Regions from separate parts of the Homo sapiens genome. Here region 1 is linked to region 2. The links come from fine-mapping of genetic effects on gene expression. A gene starts in region 2. The other region holds a variant in brackets. All regions are shown on one strand. Distances are between the middles of the regions. Region 1 overlaps PARL (presenilin associated rhomboid like). Region 2 holds the start of MAP6D1 (MAP6 domain containing 1).

Region 1 (10,206 bases), 54 kb before region 2:
TACTAAAAATACAAGAAATTAGCGGGGCATGGTGGCGGGCGCCTGTAATCCCAGCTACTCGGGAGCCTGAGGCAGGAGAATGGCTTGAACCTGGGAGGCGGAGGTTGCAGTGAGCCGAGATCGTGCCATTGCACTTCATCTTGAGCAACAGAGTGAGACTCCATGTAAAATAAATAAATACTGTACGTGTATTAGGAAGCAACAGGAAGTGTGTTAAACATTTAAGATTTATGTACACATCACCGTATTGGTTTTAGGAAGGGGAAGCAAAAGAAAACTAATGAGCCTCTAGTAAAAATTGAGTATAAAGACCATTTGAAACAGTGAACCAGAAACACATGAAATGTTGAAGATTAGTATTTAATGTCTGAAAAGCTTGCCATTTGTATAGAAAGTTTGAAAATGACATTTTCGTGGTTGCATAAAAAATATACATGAGAATGTAGGCCTGAAATAGAGCATTTGCCTCTGGTAATAAGTTCTTAAAGTTAATAGTATCAGTTTACCTTATATATAACCTTTATTAGCTATATGTTGACTTCTTATGGCTTTGAAATTAGCGTGCAGAAGAATGACCCAATCCGTGTCATTTGATGTATTAATAATAGGCCTGAAGTGGGACCAGGAATTTGCATTTTACAAGCACTCTAGGTGGTGATACTAGGGTCTGAAAACTACTGCAGGCCCAAGGCGGCCCACCAGCCAAGAATGGTTTACATTTTTAAAGGATTGTAAAACAAAAATAGTAATATGTGACAGATTTCAGTAGTCCACAAAGACCGAAATATCTTCTATCTGGCCTTTTACACAAAAGGGGAAAAAAATCTTATTTGGGCTCCTTGTAAACTTTACTGTTACCAAGGTTTGAGGCTTGAAAGTGGAAACCTGTTTAATTTGCCAGTTATATGAAACTATCCAAGGGAAGAAAATAGTTGAATTGTAACACTTAACATTTTATATTTTTAAAAAACTTGCCGTTTGTATGGAAAGTTTATATTGAGATGATAGTCTCTCTCTTTCTCTCTCTCTCTCTCTCTATATATATGTGTGTGTATATGTGCATATATATGTATATATGTGTGTGTATATATGTGCATATATGTATATATGTGTGTGTATATATGTGTATATATGTGTGTATATATGTGTGTGTATATATATGTGTGTGTGTATATATATATATAAATATATATATATATATATATATAAATATATATATATATATATATATTTTTTTTTTTTTTTTTTTAGAGACATTGTCTTGCTCTGTTTCCCAGGCTGGAGTGCAGTGGCACGATCTCAGCTCACTGCAACTTCCGCCTCCCGGGTTCAAGCGATTCTCCTGCCTCAGCCTCCCGAGTAGCTGGGATTACAGGCATGCACCACCATGATGCCTAGCTAAGTTTTGTGTTTTTTGTAGAGACGGGGTTTTGCTGTGTTGGCCAGGCTGGTCTCGAACTCCTGGTCTCAAGTGATCTGCCTGCCTCTGCCTCCCAGTGTTGGGATTACAGGCTTGAGTCACCATGCCTAGCCTCAAAATATCTTTAAGTAAGATACTTGACATATTAGTCAATCGTATATATTATATTTTGTTTTAACTGACCATCTATTAACTCACGATGGGGTCAAGAAAATAATTTTGTTATGCCAGAGTTTATGTAGAATCCATCCTCCCGCCCAGTATCTTTTGTATTTTTTAGAGGCGAGTTGTTCTGTCACCTAGGTTGAAGTGCAGTGGCACTATCATAGCTCACTGCAGCCTCAAACTCCTGGGTTCAAGGGATCCCCCTGCGTCAGCCTGCCTGGTAGCAAGGACTACAGGTACACACTACCATGCCTCGGGCTCTATTTTGTTTTAAGTGGAATGAATCTAATCAATTGTGTGTGCTTAGACACATTTTGTCTCCATTTGAACATTAGGCCATTTCTACTTAATTTGTTCATACAAATCTTGAGTAACATAAACATTAACACTGACCTGTATATTTAAGTTGTATTGTCTTTACCGTTGCACTCTTAAAAACAATGCACAGGCTGGGCATAGTGGCTCACGCCTGTAATCCCAGCACTTTGGGAGGCCGAGGCGGGTGGATCACCTGAGGTCAGGAGTTCTAGACCAGCCTGGCCAACATGGTGAAAACCCGTCTCTACTAAAAATACAAAAATTAGCCAGGCACGGTGGCAGGGGCCTGTAATCCCAGCTACTCGGGGGGCCGAGGCAGGAGAATCCCTTGAACCCAGGAGGCAGAGGTTGCAGTGAGCCGAGATTGCATCACTGTACTCCAGCCTGGGGGACAAGAGCAAGACTTCATCTGAAAAAAAAAAAAAAAAATGCACAAAGGCTGTGCGGTGGCACAGGCCTGCAGTCCCAGCACTTTGGGAGGCTGAGGCAGGAAGATCACTTGAGTCTAGGAGTTTGAGACCAGCCTGGGCAATATAGGGAGACTCCTGTCTCTACAAAAAGTAAAAAAAATTAGTGGGTATGGTGGTGCTGCCTCTGGTCCCAGCCACGTGGGAGGCTAAGGGAGGAGGATTGCTTGAGGCCGGAAGGTGAAGGTTGCTGTGAGCTATGAGGGCGCCACTGTCCTCCAGCCTGAGTGAGAGAGTGCAACCCTGTCTCAAAAAAAGACCCAAAAAATAAAAAACCAAAACATTTATGAGACTGTATTGTAACTATTAGGTGAACACATATATTGGTGTAACTTTTTCTTCTTAAAAGTTATAGGATTGTATTAAAAAAAAAGTCTGAGCTGGCCAGGCACAGTGGCTCATGCCTGTAATCCCAGCACTTTGGGAGGCTGAGGTGGGTGGATCACCTGAGGTCAGGAGTTCGAGACCACCCTGGCCAACGTGGTGAAACCCCCTCTCTACTAAAAACACAAAAATTAGCCAGGTGTGGTGGCAGGCGCCTGTAATCTCAGCTACTTGGGAGGCTGAGGAAGGAGAATCGCCTGAACCCGGGAAGCGGAGGTTGCAGTGAGCCGAGATCACGGCATTACACTCCAACCTGGGCAGCAGGAGCAAAACTGTGTCTTAAAAACGGAAAAAAAAAAACTGAACTATAACTGTGGCTGGTGGCAACTTAAGTATTCATGACATCCTCCCACTTTGAGCACATTTGATTGCTTCCCCAAATCACTAGTTCCTGGCAGAAGGACCAAAGCAGCAGAGTCAAGGCAGGCCTGCTGTCGTGAGTTGTCATATGCCTCAAGGGACCCTCTTTCCCATCCCCATCCATTTTATTGCGGCGCTTCACTTTGTTTTCCAACTTATTCAGGTAAGTAATTTATTTCCCTGTCTTATATACCCATCTGATTGGGAAGAGGTGAATAACCTAAACCTGTGAATAAGATAGCAAACATTTGCAATTAGGGACATTTATCATGCTTTTGCTTGTTTCACACTTTAAGAAATTTAAGGCTGGGTGCAGTGGCTCACTCCTGTAATCCTTTGGGAGCACTTTGGGAGGCCGAGGCAGGCAGATCACCTGAGGTCAGGAGTTCGAGACCAGCCTGGCCAATATGGCGAAACCCTGTCTCTACTAAAAATACAAAAAAAAAAAAAAAAAAAAAAATCAGTCCTGGTGGCAGGCATCTGTAATCCCAGCTACTTGGGAGGCTGAGGCAGGGGAATCACTTGAACTCTAGAGGCGAAGGTTGCAGTGAGTTGAGATGGTGCCACTGCACTCCAGCCTGGGTGACAGAGCGAGGACCTCCCCCCGCCCACCAAAAAAAGGAAATTTAAAATGAAAGCTCATTAAAAAGAGAAAATGTACCTTATATAATATGTAATAAACATACTACATCTAAAAGCATCCTTATTCCAATAGAAAACCAAACTCTTAACTGACCTAAACAATTAGGGGAATTTATTGGTTTATGAAGTTCAAAAGTGTAGAGGTAGGACTGGCTTCTAGCGAGACAAGTCCAGTGTCTCAAATTGTCACCAGACACCATTTTCTCCATGGCTTGTCTCTGTTTCCTAAATGTTGGCTTTATTCTCTCAGCATGCTATCTCCTTGTGGTTATAAGATGGCTGCCAGCAGCTCTTGGGGCTATATATTTTTAGGTGCAAATCTAGCAGAAAAAAAAGTTGTCTTCTCCGTTATCACAAACAAAATCTTGAAATTGAATTTCACTGGACCAGATTGGCCTAACTTGGGACAGGTGCCCATCCTTGAATCCCTTGAAGTTGCCAAGGAATGGGATGTGAAATTTGGCTTAAGCCAATCGTGGGCTTGGTGTGTCTCATCAAATGAAATGGCTGGAAATTCTAGAGTATGGTTTGGAAAAGGAGAAGAGGGCATGGATGCTGGGAGTAAGTCGTAGTGAAACATTTGTATTGGAATTCTTTATTTGGTTACCTAGATAGGATTAATCTGTGGGACAACAAACCATTCTAATTTAAGTACAAGTATTGTTGGAAGAGTGAGGAATCAGGTTCTAGCTCCTTGCTATTCCAAGTGGTTCATGAACTAGCAGTTTGGGTATCATCTAGGACAGGGGTTTGGCAAACTTAGTTTGTAAAAGGTCAGATAGAAAATATGGCCGCATGTGGTCTTTGTCGCATATTCTTTCTCTTTCTTTTTAAACAACTCTTTAAACGTGTGAAAACCATTCTTAGTTGGAGACTCAAATCCACTCTATAGGCCGCAGTTTGACAACCCCTAATTTAGGCGCTTGTTTAGATATGCAAAATCTCAGACTCACCTTGCCCCAGACCTACTAAATTACAATGTTTTTAATGAGATTTCCAGGTGATTTGTATGTAAACTAAAGTTTCCCCAAACCTGTGGTATGAATAGATCTTGACTCTGGCGGCACATGAGAATCACCTGGGGAGGTCTTACAACTACTAAGGCCTTGGGTCCACTCCTAGACATTCTCATTTGTTATGAGGTAGAGCCATGGTGTAGGACTTTTAAGAGCTCACCAGGCAGTTCTAATGTATAGCCAGAATTGAGAATTACTGCTCTAGACTAGGAAGCATAACTGCCTCTGCCACATCTAGTGTGGTAGATAAAACACCATGGCCACAATATTTTGTAGTTCTTATCC[A/G]AAGCTGGAGTCAACTTCCCTATTCCTTGCAGCTGGGTTGGACTTGCGGCTTAGTTTGATCGGTAGCATGTGGTGGAAGTAATATTGTGCAAGGTCCAGAGTCGGCCTCAGAAGACCTTGCAGCTTTTGCCTTTGCCCACTTGGAACACTCCCTCTGTCATGGTAGAAGCCCCCGCTAGACTACTGAACACCAAGGACTGGGCGGTGAAAGAGCAAGCAGACAACAACCAGCACTAAGGCTCCAGGTACGAGTGAAGCCATCTGAGACTCTCCAGCTCTGATTAAGCAGTCAAGAGTACTGGCTGGGGCTGGGCGCGGTGGCTCACGCCTGTAATCCCAGCACTTTGGGAGACCAAGGCGGGTGGATCACTTGAGCTCAGGAGTTCGAGACCGGCCTGACCAATATGATGAAACCCCATCTCTACTAAAAATACAAAAATTAGCCAGGTGTGCTGGTGTGTGCCTGGAGTCCCAGCTACTCAGGAGGCTGAGACAGGAGAATTGCTTGTACCTGGGAGGTGGAGATTGCAGTGAGCCGAGATCATGCCACTGCGCTCCAGCCTGGGTGACACTGTCTCAAAAAAAAAAAAAAGTAATAAATTATGGTTTTAAGCCAGTGCATTTTAGAGTGGTTTGTTAAGATGTAGATACCTTAATTTTAAAATGCTTTATTACTAAAAAATTCTAATAATCATCTGAGCCTGCAGTGAGTCATAATCTTTTTGCTGGTGGAGGGTCTTGCCTCTGTTGATGGCTGTGGACTGATCAGAGTGGCGGTTACTGAAGGTTGGGGTAGCGGTGGCAATTTCTTAAAATAAGACAACATGAAGTTCGCCACGTTGATTGACTCCTCCTTTCACAAAAGATTTCTCAGTAGCATGTGATGCTGTCTGATAGCATTTTATCCACAGTAGAACTTCTTTCAGAGTAGGAGTAAATCCTCTCAAACCGTGCTGCTGCTTTATCAGCTAGGTTTATGTAATCTAAATCCTTTGTTGTCATTTCAACAGTGTCCACAGTGTCTTCACCAGGAGTAGATTCCATCTCAAGAAACCACTTCCTTTGCTCATCCATAAGAAACAACTTCTCATCTGTTCAAGTTTGATCATGAGATTGCAGCAATTCAATCACATCTTCAGGCTCCACTTCTAATTCTAGTTCTCTTGCTCTTTCTTTTTTTTCGAGATGGAGTTTCACTCCTGTCACCCAGACTGAAGTGCAATGGCACGATCTTGGCTCACTGCAACCTCTGCCTCCTTAGTTCAAGCGATTCTCCTGCCTCAGCCTCCTGAGTAGCTGGGATTACAGGCACCCACCACCATGCCCAGTTAATTTTTTTGAATTTTTAATAAAGATGAGGTTTCACCATGTTGGCCAGGCTGGTCTCGAACTCCTGACCTCAGGTGATCCGCCCGCCTCGGCCTCCCAGGGTACTGGGATTACAGGCATGAGCCACTGCACCCAGCCTCTAGTTCTCTTTCTATTTCTACCGCATCTGCAGTTACTTCCTCCACTCAAGTCTTGAGCCCCTCAAAGTCATACTTGAGTGTTGTAATCAACTTCTTCTAAACTGTTAATGTTGGTATTTTGACCTCCTCTCATGAATCATGAGTGTTCCCGATGACATCTAGAATGGTAGATCCTTTCCAGAAGCTTTTCAGTTTACCTTGCCCAGATCCATCAGAAAAATCACTCTGTGGCTATTGCCTTACAAAATATATTTCTTTTTCTTTCTTTCTTTCTTTCTTTTTCTTTTTCTTTTTTTTTTTTTTTTTTTTTTTTTTTTACAAAATGTATTTCTTAGGGGAATAAAAAAAGAAAATATATTTCTTAAATAATAAGACTTAAACGTTGAAATTCCTGCTTGATGTATGTGGTTGCAGAATGGACATTGTGTTAGCAGGCATGAAAACAATATTCATCTTCTTGTACCTGTGCATCTGAGCTCTTGGGTGACCAGATACATTGTCGATGAACAGTAGTATTTTGAAAGGAATCTTTTTTTCTCAGCATTTGGTCGCAACATTGGGCTTAAAATATTTGGTAAACCGTTTGGGCACAGTGGATTGCGCCTATAATACCAGCACTGTGGGAGGCCAACACGGGCGGATCGCCTGAGATCAGGAGTTCAAGACCACCCTGGCCAACACGGTGAAACCCCATCTCTACTAAAAACACAAAAATTAGCCGGACATGATGGCAGGCGCCTGTGATCCCAGCTGCTCGGAGGGTTGAGGCAGGAGAACTGCTTGAACCTGGGAGGCGGAGGTTGTAGTGAGCTGAGATAGTGCCACTGTACTTCCAGCCTGGGCGACAGAGTGAGACTCCATCTCAAAAAGTAAAAATAAACAAATAAAAAATATTCCATAAACGATGCTGTAAACAGGAGTGCTGTAATCTAGGCTTTGTTGTTCGATTTGTAGAGCACGGGCAGAGTAGTTTACCATCATTCTTAAGGGTTCTAGGATTCTCAGAATGGTAAATGAGCATTGGCTTCAACTTAGTCACCAACAGCATTAGTGCCTAATGAAGTCAGCCTGTCCTTTGAAGCTTTGAAGCCAGGCATTGCCTCCTCACCTGTAGCTATGAAAGTCTTAGATGGCATCTTCTTCCAATAGAAGGCTGTTTTGTCTGCTTTGCAAATCTGTTTAGTGTAGCCACCTTCATCTTAGGATCTTCTTGATAAGTTGCTGCAGTTTCTACATCCACACTTGCTGCTTCAAGTTGTACTTGTGTGTTATAGAGACAGCTTGTTTCCTTAAACCTCATGAACCAACCTCTGCTAGCTTCAGACTTTTTTCCTGCAGCTTCCTCAATTCTTTCAGCCTTCATAGAATTGAAGGAGTTAGTCTTGCTCTAGATTGGCTGTGGCTTAAGGGAATGTTGTGGCTGATTTGATCTTCTATTCATGTAATTTTTTCCATGTTGGCAATAAGGCTGTTTTGCTTTCTTACTCTATTTTTTTTTTTTTTTTTTTTTTTGGAGACAGAGTCTTGCTCTGTCGCCCAGGCTGGAGTGCAGTGGCACAATCTCAGCTCACTGCAGCCTCCATCTCCCAGGTTCAAGCGATTCTCCTGCCTCAACCTCCCCAGTGGCTGGGATTACAGTCGCCCGCCACCACGCCCAGGTAATTCTTGTATTTTTAGTAGAGATGGAGTTTCACATTGTTGGCCAGGCTGGTCTCGAACTCCTGACCTCAGTTGATCCTCTCGTCTTGGTCTCCCAAAGTTCTAGGATTACAGATGGGAGCCACCACACCCAGCCTACTATTTTTCTCTTCTCAGGAGTAGCACTTAAAATTTCCTTCAGTAGTTTTGCTGTTGTTGATACAGAGTCTAGTTCTGTCATCCAGGTTGGAGTGCAGCAATGCATTTGTAGCTCACTGCAACCTTGACCTCCTGGGCTCAAGTGATCTTCCTGCCTCAGCCTCCCAAGTAGCTAGTACTATAGGCGCAAGCCACCACACTTGGCTAATTTTTAAATTTTTTATAGAGACAGGATCTCACTATGGTGCCCAGGTTGGTTTCAAACTCCTGAACTCAAGTGATCTTCCTGCCTTAGCTTCCCAAAGTGCTGGGGTTACAGCTGTGAGCCACCATGTCTGGCAAGAATTGTTTCTTTGTATTTACAAGTTGGCTATTTGTGCCAGAGGCTTAGCTCCTGGCCTATCTCAGCTTTTGACATGCCTTCTTCACTAAGCTTAATTATTTCTAATTGGCTGGGCACTTTGGGAGGCCGAAGCGGGAGGATCACGTGAGGTTTGAGTTCGAGACCAGCCTGGCCAACATGGCGAAACCCCATCTCTGCTAAAAATACAAAAATCAGCTCGGTGTGGTGGCAGGTGCTTGTAGTCCCAGCTACTTGGGAGGCTGAGGCAGGAGAATCGCTTGCACCCGAGAGGTGGAGGTTGCAGTGAGTCGAGATCGCGCCACTGCACTGCAGCCTGGGTGATAGAGCAAAACTCCATCTCAAAAAAAAAAAAAAAGATTATTTCTAATGATTTCAAGCCAGAGACATGTGACTGTTCCTTTCAGCTTGAACACTTAGCGGTGATTGTAGGGTTATTAATTGACCAGTGTCAATATTGTTGTGTTCCAAGGAATAGGGGGGTCCAAAGAGAGGGAAAGGTGGGCAATGGCTGGTTGGTAGAGCAGTCAGAACCTACACAACATTATTAAGTTCATTGTCTCATGGTTCATGGCACCCAAAACAATTTCAGTAGTAACATCAAAGGTCACTGATCACAAATCACCATAACAGATAAGAAAAAATTGAAGTGTTGTGAGAATTACGGAAATGTGACACAGAGCCACCAAGTGAGCGCATGCTGTTGGAAAAATGGTGCCAAAAGACATGCTAGATGTATGGTTGCCACAAACCTTCAATTTGTGTAACAAACTTGGGATATCTGTGAAGTACAATAAATCGAGGTATGCCTGTGTGTGATGTATTCAGTATGTGTACCTACTGATAAGTTCTGAACTTAACCCTGGGGCCAGCTTGTGTAATGTACTCTTAATGTCCTCAGCTTGATGCACACTTCTGGTGAGATCCTCGAGGTATATATTTTAGGCAAAAAGGTCTGGCTTTGCCTCAAGTCCAGATTCCCAACCTAGCGTGTTTATGTTCCTTTTAAAACTTGTGCTTCAAAATTTTAAGTGAATTGGTGACAGGTAGAAGTAGTTTTTTATTAGAATTGATTGTGTAGTATTAAGCTGTTGGAAATACAAATCCTTTGTATTTCTTATCCTTTGTATTTCTCAGTCCAGTACATGACAAATGCTAGGAACCAAGATTACTGGGTTACAACTTGCCATCTTTAATTAATTAATTAATTTTTTTTTTTTTGAGACGGAGTCTTGCTCTGTCACTCAGGAGCTCTCACACTGGAGTGCAATGGCGTGATCTCGCCTCACTGCAACCTCTGCCTCCTGGGTTCTAGAGAGTCTCCTGCCTTAGCTTCCTGAGTAGCTGGGATTACAGGCATGTGCCACCACGCCTGTAATCAAAATACAGGCGTGCGCCACCACGCCCAGCTAAGTTTTGTATTTTTAGCAGAGATGGAGTTTCACCATGTTGGCCAAGCTGGTCTCGAACTCTTGACCTCAGGTGATCCTCCCACCCCAGCCTCCCAAAGTGCTGGGATTAC
Region 2 (10,206 bases):
GTGAGTGGCATATACAAAAAGCTATTTTCAGGTTTTGCTTTCTAGGTTCAATTTGTAGATAAATTAAGAGGTAGAAAGAAGTGATTTGGGTAAATTCAGACTTGAATCTGAGCCGAATTTTATCTTCTGTTTGAAAGTGTTCTAATTGAAGCGTCTCACTGAAATAGCAGATAGTGGCTGTCGTCGTCACAGCCTCACTGTTGTGGAATTCATGTTACCCTCGTGACTGAGAATGACATCTAGGAAATGCAGTTTGAGAGTATGTTCTTCTTGAAGTCATTTACAGGAGAATTTTTAGTCTTTTGATGGCTTCAAAATGTTATACCAAGTCTTGCAGCTTTGTCCTGGGAGGATCGAAGGCCCTGATTTCAGCCTCCTGTGGCCGATCGGACTCAGGTTGTGTGCCGTGGGGGATGGGAATGGCGGCTTTGGAAAAGGAGTGGGAGTGGTGCCCACCTCACCAGGCAAGTGAGAACTGCATGGCAGCACGCGCCCAGCACATAGAAATTGTCCAGTATTTGGCAGTCCTTCATATCCTTCTTCCATCAGGCTGGACTTGTTTCTACTATGATTTACAGTTATTCTTCCCAGGCACAGGATTCTGTTCTAAACTCGTATCACTTCTAGGGGAGAGAGTTATCTTAGCCATCATTTTGCCAGCGAGGAAACGGCACACGTGGTGTAGGGGCACTGCCCAAGGTCACAATGCTTTGCTCTGACATCTGCTAACAACTCTGCAACACAGATGAGGCAAGATGCGTTTTCCAGAGATGGGATAGGAGGCTGAGTTCATAGGGACATTCCCTCTAGAGCCCAACATTAATTCACATCGTGCTTTGGGCAGACCAGGCAAAGAGGCAATGAAGACATCTCTGTGTCCCTGCTTTGTGACTGGGAAAAAGTTAGAAGTCCCTGTAGCATCTCCTGGTCCCTAAAACCCCTCAATGCTGGAGCCTCTGTGCATGGCCTGGGGAGGCCAGAACCTGGCTGTGGCCGGAGAAGCCTTGCTGTCCACAGCTCCCTCCTGATTGCCCACGAGGGTGCTTCACTTTCTCCTCTTGGCTTCTCTGGGGACCCGCGATCACTGCCTTCAAGGCCATGCACTCCCTGGCCCGTGGGCCTCTTGGGCTGTGCCGCCTCCACTGGCATCTGAAGTGTGGGGTACCTAGGAACATGCCGTGGCTGCCGTCTCCCTCATTCCATACACTTCTTGAGTGGGTGCACTTGCTGAAGCCTCAGTTATCTGTGAGGATTCTGAGCTCCAGACCCACAGAATCTCTCTGTACTCTTAGTAAATGTGTCTACTGCAACACACGCATGGTTCCAGGCTCTGGGACCACCCCCCCGCCCTGCACAGGCCCCTCAAATAGCACTCGGCTTAAGGAGTGACACGAGCAATCGGTGAAGTCTGAAACCCGGAGCCATTCGAGATCTCCCTCTCTCGCCTCTTATTTCTAGAATTCAGCCCCTCAGCCTTCCCAGTGCCTGTGACTCCGTGGTGGTCCTCACTTCTTAGTCCCTGGACTGTTGAGCCTGTTCTTCCAGCTGGTCTCCAAAGCAACCCTGTGCTTCTCCATATGCCTGCCAGAGTGCTAAAAACATGTCTGTCATTCCTTTGTTGTCACCTGTGAAAAACTTTTATTTATTTGAGACAGGGTCTCTCTCTCTCTCTCTCGTCCAGGCTGGAGTTCAGTGGTGCAATCATAGCTCACTGTAGCCTTGAAGTCCTGGGCTCAAGCCTCAGCCTCCAAGTAGCTGGCACTGCAGGCACACACTACCACGCCTGGCTAATTTTTAAAAGTTTTTTGTAGAGACAGGGTCTCACTGTGTTGCCCAGGCAGTTCTCAAACTCCTGGGCTCAAGCAGTCCTCTTGCCTCAGCCTCCCAAAGTGCTGGGATTCCACGCATGAGCCATCTGCACCCGGCCATATGAAAAGCTAAAATTCCTTAGTGTGGCCACCAAGACCCTCCATGGTCTGCTACCTCAGCTGAACCCTCCTCCCCCGTGACCTACATTCCCACCTGGCCCAACCACCCTCCCTCACAACAGGTGGCGAGTCCAGCTTTCCCCAGCCTGCCTCCCTCTCATGCTGACCTGGCCTTGTCAGTTCAATTACACTTCCTTCCGTCCCTCACTACCACACTAAACCTCCTGAAGGCACCCAGAATTATTCCTAGCACATAGCAACTGCTCTTTGACTGTTGTTTGATCAATGAAGTAATAAAAAGAGAGCTGCTCTCTTTTCCTGCGAGATGGAGAATTTTAGTCCCAAGCGCCATCTGCCAGGCTGGCTAACCCAGGGCCGTGGCGGACAGTCCACAAAGAGTTCACTCTGACCCGGCCCCTGTGTGTCATTTTCCAGGATCTCCCTCTACACCTGGCGCCTCGCCTGCTGCCTGCTGGGACATGGCCTGGCCTGCTCAGCTGACCTGCTGCCACTTCTAGGCAGCCGTCATGTCACTTTGCTACAACTTCAAGCTAAGACAGGCAATGTTTTGGGAGATGAATCTGTTTTCTGACTGGCCAGGGATGTGCTGCAGTCCCCTCCCAGGCGCAGACTGGATACCTTCCAAGTACAACCTTGAAATGGAGCTCTGGGTAATTAATGCTGTCTCAGTAGTGTTATTAGTAATTGGTCTGCAGTGTATACCGAGAGCATGTGTCAAATATTCAGAAAAGCGTTTGTGGGTGGTCAGGGAGTTGTTTGAGACGGTGTCCTGCATTGAACAGACCTGCCTTTACGCTGGAGGATCCCTCAACAGCTCTGCCTGAAAACAGCCATGCATGCACAGGAGGAAAGGAACTTGATAGCCTTGTGGCCAGTTCTGTGGCCGCTTTATCAAACTAAAGCTTTTGCAAATGGCCATGCTTTAAAATTAGGAATTTCAGAACCCAGGGAAAGGTCGATTGGTGGCTAATGCCAATTCTAATGAAAAGTGGATTGGTTGTCACAAATGTAGACTAGCATCCTAAAGGCAAATAGGCGGCGACTCACAGGCTGACTGAAACACGTGTTCTCCGGGAAGCAGGGCCCCGAGTCTTCTCTGACACCCTCATTGCTGCACCTGCCCCTGTGCCCGCGGAGTCCATGCGGTGCAGCCTGGCACAAATGCAGCAGTCGCTGGGCGTCCCGAGGCCACATGGAGAACCTCCCGGCTGGCGGACTGCTCCCAGCTGCGACCATCGGGCCCTTGGCCTCTGCGAAGCCGGGGCCATTTATAAGATGACACTGAGGGAACTTTGGATTCAATTCTGAGGCATTCTTCGAGATGGACACTTGTAAATGAATGCAGGCGGTTTCCGGTGCCCCCTGGCGACGGTGCAGCCTTTCCCCCATCCGCGCTCCCTCCAGCTCCAGCCGTGCGCAGCCGGCCCCGGCCAAGTGGGGCTGCCGCCGAGTGCGCCCCCTCCCGGGACGCCCACCCTCGTGCCGGGGGGCGGTGCTGCGGCGGCGCGGGGCGGGCCGCGGGGGCGGGGACGCTGGGCGCAGGAGGCGCGGCCGGGAGCGCCGCGCGCCGGGAGCGGGGCGGCGGGCGCCGGGGCTGGCATGGCGTGGCCCTGTATCAGCCGCCTGTGCTGCCTGGCGCGGCGCTGGAACCAGCTGGACCGCTCCGACGTGGCGGTGCCGCTCACTCTGCACGGCTACTCGGACCTCGACAGCGAGGAGCCGGGCACGGGCGGCGCCGCCTCGCGCAGGGGCCAGCCTCCCGCGGGCGCCCGGGATTCCGGCCGGGACGTGCCGCTCACTCAGTACCAGCGGGACTTCGGCTTGTGGACCACGCCCGCCGGGCCCAAGGATCCGCCGCCGGGGCGCGGACCGGGGGCGGGCGGCCGCAGGGGCAAATCCTCCGCGCAGTCCTCCGCGCCACCTGCGCCCGGCGCCCGCGGGGTCTACGTGCTGCCCATCGGCGACGCGGACGCGGCTGCAGCAGTGACCACGTCGTACAGGTATGGGCTGGGTAGGGACCGCAACGAGTCCCCACCCTGTGGTGGGAGGACGCGGAGGCCCGGAGCCAGAGGGATGGGGTGGGCGGCAGAGCGGAGGCGCCTGGAGCCCGGATCCCACGCGACCTCGGAGCTGCCGGCGGCCTCAGAGGTCACCCCCGTTTGGTCCGTGGGCACTGCAGGCGGCGCCTTCGCTGCTCCATGCCCGGACTCAGTGCTCGAGCACCCCCGTGCCGGGAGCGCACCGCTGCCCTCGCAGCCGCCCTCCTGGGGGCAGCCGTCAGAATGGCCTGCCTTCAGCCGAGTTGGAACCGGCCTCCCTTTAACTCCCACCGCCGGGCCTAGCCGTGCGAGGGGTGCGCGCAGGCCATGTCCCCCAGCTCTCTCCGGTCACTGCCTAGTGTGCGGGCGTTGGTGGTGAGGACCGAGCGCAGGGTCCCGTGTGGGTGAGCCCTTCAGAGTCCCACTGTGACAGGGGCTTTCAGGGAGAACGGGTCCGCGGGCCCTCCCCACCTCCCAGCCCAGCTCTGCTCCTGGACAGCCGAGGGCTTTCTCCCTTTTTTCCTCTTACCACAAAAGTAATTCATACTGTAGAAAAATGGGAAAGTACAGAAATTACAACAAAATACGTATCTCCTTGATCCCTCCCCAGACGAGTTCTTTCTACTCCGTAATGTGCATTTGGTGCATATGCACTGATATATTTTTACGTGGTTAGATTCTTACTGTACACTTTTTTCACCAGTTGTAGAAGTCTGTCCGTGTTACTACATGTTCTGCAACATGAATTTTAATAAACGTGCAGTATTTTATCCTATGGATATGCCTTTATATCTTCAAGTTTTATTTATCTACTTCCTTACCATTGACTATTTAGGGTGTTTCTAATGTGGGACTATTAAAAGCACTACTTTTCCTTTGATGCAGCTATTTCACTACTAGGAATTTTCCCTACAGGTATCCTACAAGGTAGGGTGGGAGCTCAGGAGCGTAAGATAGGTGGAGACATTGTACAACAAACCCCTTGTCCTGCTGATGTAGGGAACTGGTTAATTATAGCACAGCCATGAAATGGGATACTGAAACCCAGCGGATCTTAAATATACGCATACCAAAAAAGCAAGGTGCCCAGCAGCACGTAGGCTATTTGTGTTTTAAAAAGGGGTATTAATATACACACATATGCTCAAATAAGCACAGGATGCCCTGATGGATGTCTGAGGAGATGGTACCGTTAGGGAGAGGAACTTGATAGGGACTGCCAGGGGTGGAAGGCTTTTCACTCTGCTCTTTTGAACGATTGCTTTTTTTGCCTTTGTAACATGTCCATGTATTGCCTATCTTTTTAACTTTTTTTTTTGGAGACGGAGTCTCGCTCTGTCACCCAGGCTGGAGTGCAGTGGTGCAATCTCGGCTCACTGCAATGTCTGCCTCCCTGGTTCCAGCAATTCTCCTGCCTCAGCCTCCCGAGTAGCTGGGATTACAGGCTTGTGCCACCATGCCCAGTTAATTTTTATTTTTATTTTTATTTTTGATTTTTTTCTTTTTTGAGACAGAGTCTCGCTCTGTCGCTCAGGCTGGAGAGCAGTGGCGCCATCTTGGCTCACTGTAACCTCCGCCTCCTAGGTTCAAGCAATTCTTCTGCCTCAGCTTCCTGAGTAGCTGGGATTATAGGTGTGTGCCATCACGCCCAGCTAATTTTTTGTATTTTTAGTAGAGATGGGGTTTCACCATGTTGGTCAGGCAGGTCTTGAACTCCTGACCTCATGATCCGCCTGCCTCGGCCTCCCAAAGTGCTGGGATTACAGGCATGAGCCACCATGCCCGGATGAGGGACTCCTTCTAAAAGCTAAGCCAGCCAGGCATGGTGGCTCACACCTGTAATCCCAGCACTTTGGGAAGCTTAGGTGGGAGGATCACTTGAGCCCAGGAGTTCAAGACCAGCCTGGGCAACATAGTGAGACCCTGCCTCTACAAAAAATAGAAAATTAGCTGGGCGTGGTGGTGCCTGCCTGTGATTCCAGCTACTTGGGAGGCTGAGGTGGGAGGATCCCTCAAGCCTGCGAGGTCGAGGCTGCAGTGAGCAGTGTTTGTGCCACTGCACTCCACCTAGGCAACAGAGCAAGACCTTGCTTCAAATAAATAAAAGCTAAGCCTCTGCTAGAACATCCCTAGTAAAGAGGAGCCCAGCGCCATGCAAGTCAGCTCGCTCCATGGGCAGACTGTTGTAACTGACAGAAAGCGCTTCCTTCCCGGAGCTGAAGCTGTCTCCCTGCAAGCTCCACCCCTTGCCCTGCTCTGGTGCCTAGAACTTCAGCCGCTGGAATGCGCTGCACGCTCAGGACCCCTGGCCTTCCAGACTCTCCGCTATTCAGGCCCCTCCAGCTGGCTAGTCTAGGGCCTGAGCGCTGCGGCTCAGTGTTGCCCACTCCAGCTTTGGCGGCTCAGCTTGAGGACGTGTCAGTGAATGCAAGACCCACCCTGCAACCACTGTCCCCCAGCGAGTTCCTTACAAAGTGCCGACCTATGAGGGAGCCTCCTCCTGGGGACATGGAATGTTCTTTGTGTCTTGATAATGGTGGTGGTACCCAAGTGGTTACATTTGTCAAAAGTCATCCAGCTGTATGTTTTTAATGGATGAATTGTATGGTTTGGAAATAATGCCTTGATACAGTTGGGTTTTTGGGGGGTTTTTTTGTTGTTGTTTGTTTTGTTGTTGTTGCTGCTGTTGCCCAGGCTGGAGTGCAGGGACATGATCTCAGTTCACTGCAGCCTCAACCTCCCAGGCTCAAGTGATTTTCTCACCTCAGCCTCCCGAGTAGCTGAGACCACAGGTGGGCACTACATGTGGGGTTTTGTGTGTGTGTGTGTGTGTGTGTGTGTGTGTGTGTGTGTGTGTGTGTGTGTGTTTTAGAGATGGGGTTTATGTTGCCCAGGCTGGTCTCAAATTCCTGGGCTCAAGCGATCCTCCTGCCTCAGCCTCCCAAAGTGCTGGAATTAAAGGCATCAGCCACTGTGCCCAGCTTGGTTTTTAAAACTAATAAAATTGGGGGGATAAGTTCATACTTTTTGGCTCTTTAATTCCACAGTTAGGAATTTATCCCAAAGAAATGATGATATGAACAAAGATTTAGCTGTAAGGATGCTTATCACAGAAGTTACTTTTTTTTTATTTTAAAGTTAAAAAGAGGCCGGTCGCAGTGGCTCACACCTGTAATCCCAGCATTTTGGGAGGCCGAGATGGACGGATCTCCTGAGGTCAGTTCAAGACCATCCTGGCCAACATGGTGAAACCCCGTCTCTACTAAAAATATAAAAATTAGGCCGGGCGTGGTGGCTCACCCCTATAACCCCAGCACTTTGGGAGGATGAGATGGGCAGATCCCAAGTTCGAGACCAGCCTGGCCAACATAGTGAAACCCCATCTCTACTAAAAATTAGCTGGGCGTGATGGCACGCACCTGTAATCCCAGCTACTCGGGAGGCTGAAGCAGGAGAATCCATTGAACCCAGGAGGTGGAGGACGCAGTGAGCCGAGATAGAGCCACTGCACTCCTGCCTGGGCAATAGAGCGAGACTCCATCTCAAAAAAAAAAAAAAAAAAAAAAGCAATCCCTCATCTGTGTGGAACATGTGGTGAGTGAATGTCCTGCCGGGCCCTCCCAGCTCTGGTGACGGTGAAGGTACTAGCTGTCGCCTTCTCTGCTTTAACGCACACCAGGCTCAGCACTCCCTGAGGTTAGCCCCCTGCAGCCTTCGTGTAGTGCTTGCCGTCCCCATTCTACAGACAAGGAAACTGAGTGGCTGGCACAGCTCTGAATGGCAGAGAAGGGAGTGGAACCCGTGTGACTTGCCCCAGAGATCAAATTTGTAGCCCCCATGGGTTTTCATCCCTTAAGAGCTGCCTCCTTGGAGTCACTTGCTTTCTTGAACTGTGTCCTGAGGCCAGCTGTGGAAAAGCCTTGACAGACAGGAGTCGGGGCTTGTTGGGGTTCTTACCTCCTGGTGTGTAAATTCAGGTGGGTCAGCCTCTCTTTTTTTCTTTTTTTTTTTTTTGAGACGGAGTCTCACTCTGTCACCAGGCTGGAGTGCAGTGGCGCCATCTCGGCTCACTGCAACCTCCGCCTCCCGGGTTCAAGCGATTCTCCTGCCTCAGCCTCCAGAGTAGCTGGGACTACAGGCGCCCACCACCACACCCAGCTAATTTTTGTATTTTTATTTTGTATTATTTATTTATTTATTTGAGATGGAGTCTTGCTTTGTTGCCCAAGCTGGAGTGCAGTGGCGCAACCTTGGCTCACTGCAACCTCCGCCTCCCGGGTTCACGCCATTCTCCTGCCTCAGCCTCCCGAGTAGCTGGGACTACAGGCGCCCGCCACCATGCCTGGCTAATTTTTATGTATTTTTTTTTTTTACTAGAGACGGGGTTTCACCGTGTTAGCCAGGATGGTCTCGATCTCCTGATCTCGTGATCCGCCCGCCCCAGCCTCCTGAAGTGCTGGGATTACAGGCATGAGCCACTGTGCCTGGCCTAATTTTTGTATTTTTAGTAGAGACGGGGTTTCACCATGTTGGCCAGGATGGTCTCGTTCTCTTGACCTCATGATCTGCCCGCCTTGCCCTCCCAAAGTGCTGAGATTACAGGCGTTAAGCCACCGCGCCTGGCTGGGTCAGCCTCTCTGACCCTTTCTTCATCCGAAAAGCAGGAATAGCAAGAGCTTGGCTGCCTGGACCCCTGCCCCCAATTCGGGCAGAAACACAGGATCACTGTTGAACTTGACCCTCCCAGCGCCATGCCAGTGGGCCTCTGGGACCCCCACCTTCCAGCTCTGGGACCTGATACAAGCCACTCCCTCCAGCCTTGTCTTGTAAGATGTACATCATCTAAGCAAACTTAAGAAATTCAGAAAGCCAAGGAAACGAACAGAGCCAGGAATCCTGAAGATGTGAGGCCACTCCTAACTCAAGGTTCTTGAGGGAGTACCCAGGATCCCCGGGCCTCAGCTTCTTCACCCCTGCAGGACCTGCCTTGCTGGCTTCTGGTCTGCACGTGAGTTGATCTGCCTTGCCTGCCTGGCCACATGGGCACAGCAGGTCCTACCCACATCCAGCCTGGCTCCTTCCACCTGACAGGCCCCCTCTGAATTCTCTCTGGGCCATTGGGCATCTTTGGCCCAGTTGCTAGCCCCGCCCACTTCTGGAAGGCAGTCCTTGCTCCCTGGTTGCTTCCCTCCTTCCTGCCTAGGTGGGGCAGTTAAAGGGCTGATATTCAAGTTCCACAAGACTTGGCCCCACTTTACTGAGTGCCCGAAACGAAGACTCACAACAGCCTCAGGCACATGGGTCAGCAGCCCCACTTTTCAGAAGAAACTGAGGCTCAGGGAAGTTGAGGAATGTGTCTGAAGCCATGTTGGGCTGAGAACCCAGGCCTCCCAATCCTCTGTCCGGGGCTGATGCCGGAACATGCTTGAGCACTGTATGGGGGCACAGCAGGCAGGGAGGCCTGTATTTCTTACTAATCTTGGCCTGAGCCATGAGTCTGTTTTCTTTCTCTCCAGGCAGTCACCGGGTCCTGCCCATTCCATCTTTAAGGTCCCCTCTCCCATCTGGGCTCCAGCCCCGGGTTCCTCCTCTGGCGGCCGCCAGGATTGCTGTCGTCTGTGGCTCTGGTGGCTTCCTGCTCTGAGACCCCTGCAGCCACCTCAGGGCAGCGGGCTCAGGATGCCAGGCCCAAGGCTCAGCGTGGGCATGTGAAGTGTTTTGGGGACAGAAGGGCGCGCCCAGGGGAGGACCTGCTTCCGCAGGAGGAACAGAGCAGCATATGGTTTGGGCAGCTGGTCTTCAGAAGCTCGCGGCTTCGGGAGTGAAAATTACCTGACGGGGCCCCGGCCTAGCTCTCCTCCTGGCACCCCAGTGCTGGCCATGGACACAGCCATTCCCTGCCCACGCAGCCTGCCCAGTGGTGCCCCAGCTTTGCAGCTGCCAAGGAGAAAGGCAGCTTTGTTGACCTCAGGGCCTGAAGCCCAACCCCGGCAGTGTCCAGCCTGGGCAGGAGCAACTCCGCACACGTGGGTGCCAGGCCCAGCTAGCTGGACACTTCCACCTTGGCCAGGTGCTCCTGGGACACAGGGACTTCTGCCTTCTGAGCTCCCCATCTTGCAGAGGAGTGGGTAGAATTAAAGGAGGTCCCTTTTGTTCAGAGAAATGGAAGCACTGTCTTTTCATGGAGAAAGCTGCTCCCGGTACATGGAGCTAGCGGT

What was found.
Region 1: its variant is fine-mapped to the expression of MAP6D1 in whole blood (TOPMed, PIP 0.97).

Annotation. Positions count from the first base shown.
Region 1 is chr3:183,873,248-183,883,453 of GRCh38, reverse strand. The region is part of intron 1 of PARL (presenilin associated rhomboid like); the gene reads left to right. Among named protein-coding and RNA genes, the nearest start is that of PARL, 6.5 kb to the left of the region's middle. The variant A/G (reference allele first, on the strand shown) is at 5,058.
Region 2 is chr3:183,818,890-183,829,095 of GRCh38, reverse strand. It overlaps MAP6D1 (MAP6 domain containing 1), which reads left to right and starts at 3,519. Exons shown (of 3, transcript NM_024871.4): 1 at 3,519-3,949. The coding sequence starts at 3,549. It also overlaps a transcript of PARL not described here. RefSeq lists silencers at 3,312-3,661, 3,722-3,791, 3,812-3,941.